Linked DNA regions of Homo sapiens: region 2 is linked to region 1. The links come from fine-mapping of genetic effects on gene expression. Tissue or cell type: whole blood. Region 1 holds a variant in brackets; the other region holds the start of a gene. All regions are shown on one strand. Distances are from middle to middle.

Region 1 (2,684 bases):
TGAGGTGGGGAGATGGCCACGAGCTATCGTTGGGTGAAAAAGGCAAGTGACAGAACTAGAGGGGCAGTGTAATCCCTTCCAGTGAGAAAGAAGAGAGAAAGCAGAAAGGAAGGGAGGAAGGGAGGCAGGCAGGCTACAAGGAATGAATCTGGGGGCCTGCCAGTTGAGCCATCTGCCCTGTGGTCAGGGCAGCTGCTGGCCCGGGCTCAGGGTGCCCCTCTGAATGAAGGAAGAGGAAGACTCAGACAGCACCCCACGGCCCAACCTCATTCCATCCCCACAACTCAGGGCACGCCTGTGACTGACTTCCTTCCTCCTGAAATTGGCCCCCCTGGGGATAGGAGCCCATCCTCAACCATCCAGGGCTCTGTGGGAAACAAGGTTTGAGTCCTTCTTCCTGGCTCTGGGGACAGAGTCAGATACCATGCGCCAAAGGTTCAAGATGGTTCCATTTTATTTGAAGCAATGTGTTTCTGAAGAACCTACACAATTCTATATGTACATTTATCAAAACTAACCTTTCACTTAGGGGGGTGTGTGTGTGCGTGTATGTGTGTGTGTATGTGTATTGTATGTGTGTGTATGTGTGTGTCTATGTGTATGTGTGTGTATGTGTGTATGTGTCTATGTGTATGTGTGTGTATGTGTATGTGTGTGTATGTGTATGTGTGTATGTGTATGTGTGTATGTGTATGTGTGTATGTGTGTGTATGTGTGTATGTGTATGTGTGTATGTGTATGTGTGTGTGTGTATGTATGTGTGTGTGTATGTATATGTGTGTATGTGTATGTGTGTGTGTATGTGTGTGTGTGTGTGTGTGTCATACCTTTCCACTTGAAGACCGTCTTTCATTTTCTCCACGACCTTGTGTCTTCTACCTCACAGATTCTCAGACATTGACTTGTTTGAGTTTCTCAGCTCTGGCACTGGCGCTGCTACTTAAAGCATGCCCATCTCTCACTGTGATAAGCGCCAAAAAGCAGTGTGCCCACGGAAAGCACTTGCAGAAGTGAGGTGCTGGGACACAGCTGCCAGGATTGAAGATACTGAGGAAGGAACGGTGCCAACAATTTGCTGACTGCTTCCATGG[C/T]GACACCGTGTGGCCATGTTGTGCCATGTGTCCACACGTCTGAGACCTGTCATCTTTAAGATCACTCCTAGTAATTTAAAAAAAAAATTTGAAGTGAGACACATTATCTTCAAAAATTGTGCACAAAGTGAGGCCTTATGAGCGGTTTTTAGCATGCAATTTTAAATTCACGTGTCTATACGCCTAAGACCTGTCATCTTTAAGATCACTCCTCCAAATAATTTTTTTAAAAAAATTTGAAGTGAGACATATTATCTTCAAAAATTGTGCACAAAGTGAGGCCTTATGAGCGGCTTTAGCATGCAATTTTAAATTCACATAATTTACACATATAGAAAATAAGAGCACACCAGGAGAAATTAGAGCGTAGTTACAGGAAAAGCCGTGCCGACCTCGGTGTGGCTAGAGGGCCAGTCTTCTTCTTTCCCACCTGTGGTGGGATGCTTGTACCAGAGAAGAGAACCTCTCTTCAGAGCAGGTGGCAGCTCCAGTCATGGTGGTTGTGCTGGACGGATGCTGACTGCGAGCCAGCCTCTCTGTGGAGTGCTGCGTGCATGTACTTATTTACTTATTCATTCTGTAGTTATTTATCTTGCTCCTATATGGCAGGCACTCAGGATAGAGGGGTGAATGAGAAAGAGGTTCTTGCTCCTGTACAATCTATTGGCTTCCCTCCAAGGAATGTACTATGTTTTTTGTTTGTTTTTAGAGACAGAGTTTTGCTCTGTCGCCCAGTCTGGAGTGTAGTGGCACAATCATGCCTCACTGCAGCCTCGACCTCCCCGGCTCAACTTCCTCCCACTTCAATCTCCCTGGAAGCTGGGACTACAGGTGTGCACCAGCATGCCTGACTAATTTGTTTATTTTATGTTTTTGTATAGACAGGGTTCTTGCTATGATGTCCAGGTTGGTCTCAAACTCCCGGGCTCAAACAATCGTCCCGCTTAGGCCTCTCAAAGTGCTGGGATTACAGGTGTGAGCCACCGCGCCCAGCCTGTAAGAGTCCACTTGTAAGAAATGTCCAGAAAAGACAAATTTATAGAGACAGACAGTACATTTGTTGTTACCAGGGCCTGTGGGTGAGAATGAGGACTGACTGTGCAAACGGGCATTGAGTTTTCTTTTTGGGCGAATGGAAATGTTATAAAAGTCAGATTTTGGTCCTTCCACACCCATCCCAATTTGGGCCTCCCGTCTGGATTACAGGAAACTCCTCCTCCTCCTCCTTCGACTTCTTGGATACTGGAGCCTGAGCTGAAGAATGTTTTCATTTCTTTGCCTCATGGCCGCCTGTTACCTCTCCCCAGCGGAGAGGCAGCTTGCTTGGCTCCTGCTGACCCCGGCAGGGAGCCAGGTGCCTTGGGTGTCAGCTCCCGTACTGGCCGTGGCGGCTCTGAACTCGGCACCTGCTGACTGGGGTAAGGCTCTGGTGATCCTGGGCCCGGGTATAGGTGCTCATGCCACCCCCACCCCCCGGGTCAGCTCCTCTGTACTCTGGGCCCACGTGGAGGCTGGTTCTCCCTGGCCCTGAGAACACCGTGGTGCCTCCTCACTTGGCTTTGGCTGACATTCTGGGGATTCAGAGCTAGACTC
Region 2 (2,684 bases), 22 kb before region 1:
AGCTACTCAGCCCAGCTCAGACACTGCGCCCAGGTGCCTGTCCCATGTCTCCTCCAGGATAAGCGTCTCCCATTCTACAGCCCTGCAGTCCAACCAAGGTCTACCAGCCACTCGACAAATACATCCTGAGCACCTGTGGGAGCCTGGTCCTGGGCTGGGTCCAGGAGGGCCAAGGGCAGCGCCCTGATCTGGCCTGCCCGACTCGGAGGCCCAGATAGATGTTCTCCTCCCTCCTCCCCTGGTTGAGCCAGACCTGCCCCCTCTCCTGTCCTCTGCCCTTCAGCCAGTGGACATACAGGTGGTGAGCAAAGGCAGGCTTTGTCAGGCTTACTTTGGGCCTCCTGGGGACCTTGGGGAAGTGACACATGTCCTTGGTCTAAGCTTCTCCATGTGTAAAATGGGTCTGACACTCCCTGTGAGAATTACAAGCATGTAAAGCCAGTATTTAATTCCTATGGCGTGCAGAAATGTTGAGGTCCCCGTCGCTGACTTCAGGGCTTCAGACACTGGAACCCCTGACCCCGCCCTTACACCCTTTGATTTCCAGGGACACCAGCTCCGTGGGGACTCCCAGCTCATCTTCTCAGCTTCCTCCCTGACATCTCCATCCACTCCCTCTGCCGCCCGCTCATCCCCCACAGTCCCTCTTTCCAACCCCTCCGCCTCCGCTTCAGGTCTGCGTCTCTCCCCGCCAGAGCCACATCCCAACACAAACCGAACCCCGCCTCTCCTGTGCAGGGGACCCTCCCGCGGGGGCCTCTGCTCCTCAGCTGGCCTTCGAGGCCCCTGTCCCCTCAAATCCGGGGACCCCTGGCCTTCCGCCCCTTCTGCGGCGCTGACAGCCCGCGATTCGCCTCCTCAAGATTCGTCTCAAGTGCCAGCGTGCACCTGCACCCGTCCGCCTCGGGCGCGCGGTGGTCCCCGGCCCCTGTCCCCGCCGTCGCCGGCCACGGGGAGGGGGAAGCCCGCCTCGAGCGCCCTCTGGGGGACCGACCGCGAGCGGAGGCGCTGGGCGTCGGGAAGTGCGCACCCAAGTCCGGGGCCCGGCCGGGATGGATCTCCGGCGCGCGTGGGTCGGGACGGCGCGGCGCGGGGACCCCGCGGGGAAGCGAGTAAGGGCGCGAAGGATCCGGGCTCAGCGCGCAGCCCGGCAGGGCCCGGCTCCGAGGACGCGGAGCCACCGACGGAGACGCGGATTCAGGGGCCGGGAGAGCTACCCCTGCGCCGAGGCGCGGCCCGGCCGCCCTGGCCCTGACCCGGCTGCGGTCCCCGCCCGCCCCTTCCTCATCCCGAGGTCCCGCGCCCCAAGCGCCGTGCTCCCCTCAGGCGTCCGCGCACCAGGGCCACCGTGTCCCCCGCCCGTACCCGGCGGAGCGGTCTCAGCGCCCGCCCCAGGTGCGCGGTACCCCCTCCCCGGCCAGCCCCACGCTCGGGCGGGTGGCCCGTTCGCCGCGCTCACCGTCCAGGAGTCCCAGGCAGAGCCACAGTCGCAGGCACAGCGCGGCGCCCCGCTGCATCTCCGGCCGCTGCGCGTGGGTCCGACCCGAGCGGCCGCGGCTCGGGGCTGAAAGTGTCCGCGCGGGCGCCGGCTGGCCTGGGGCGGGGCGGGGCGGGGCGGGGGCCGGAGGCGGGCCCGGGATTCAGGCCGCTCCCCGCGCCCCCCTCCCCCCGTCCCTCCCAGCCCGCCGCGGGGCGTCCGGTGCACCCGAGCAGTGCGCGCTCCGCACCACAGGGTCCGGGCCCCCTCCTGGGCGGCTCCGGGCGCGGGGACGCGGGTAACGCAGACGGTCTCGCGATGCGCTCCGGAGGTGATGGAGCCTGGTGGGCAAAGGGGAGCAAAATGCGGCACGCGCTCTTTTCCGTCCTTTCTTTCCATCGGTAAAATCTAGACTAAACAAGAAAGCAATCCTTGTAAAAATAGTATGTTACATCTTTGAAAATAGTGGCACCAGCCGGCGTAACATAGGGAGACCCAGTCTCAAAAATAAACAAGCAAATAAATAAAATAATACGCCGAGCTTGGTTGTGCGCGCCTGTAATCCCAGCTTCTCGGGGGGGCTGAGGCAGGAGAATCGCTTGAACCCGGGAGAAGGAGGTTGCAGTGAGCCGAGATCGCGCCACTGCACTCCAGTCTGGGAGCCAAAAAAAAAAAAAAAAAAGCAAAAACAAAACCCGTTCAGCAGTGTTTACCTGCACAGTGTCGACGGACAGTGTCGACGGAAGCCGCACCCGTGAGCGGGACACCCGGGATGACCGACCCCCTCCCTGCAGGCCTGGCCTCCTAGCTTTAGAACTCCCCCAGATGTTTTGTTCTCAGCTCAATCAGGACCCGCCCCCACCTTTTTAATAAAGCGACACTTTGCTTTTGCTTTCTGACTTGGCAACCCTCTTACAGACTTCCGTTCTCTTTTCAGTTTGTCTCTAGAATTTTCCTGTTTAATAATGAAGCCCATGACCATGACTGTCTCAACCTCCTTCCCTGCTTTTCGTTTCATTCACATTTTCCATCCCCCCACCCCCGCCCCCCAAAGCCCTTTCATCCTCGCCAAAAAGCAAGAGTAGATTTTCAATAACCACTACCAGCTCTCTCCAATCCAGGTAAGAAGTGGCTATATTATTAAGCTGGAATCACAAATCAGTGCGGATAGTGTAGATAATTTAACAAATAAGGTTGGGGAAACTAG

Evidence for each region. PIP is the estimated chance that this variant, and not a neighbour inherited with it, causes the effect.
Region 2: FLT4 starts here. The variant in region 1 is fine-mapped to the expression of FLT4 in whole blood (TOPMed, PIP above 0.99).

What each region holds. Positions count from the first base shown.
Region 1 is chr5:180,669,649-180,672,332 of GRCh38, forward strand. It overlaps the pseudogene LOC100420514. Among named protein-coding and RNA genes, the nearest start is that of LINC02222, 13 kb to the right of the region's middle. The variant C/T (reference allele first, on the strand shown) is at 1,092.
Region 2 is chr5:180,648,029-180,650,712 of GRCh38, forward strand. It overlaps FLT4 (fms related receptor tyrosine kinase 4), which reads right to left and starts at 1,572. Exons shown (of 30, transcript NM_182925.5): 1 at 1,460-1,572. The coding sequence starts at 1,517.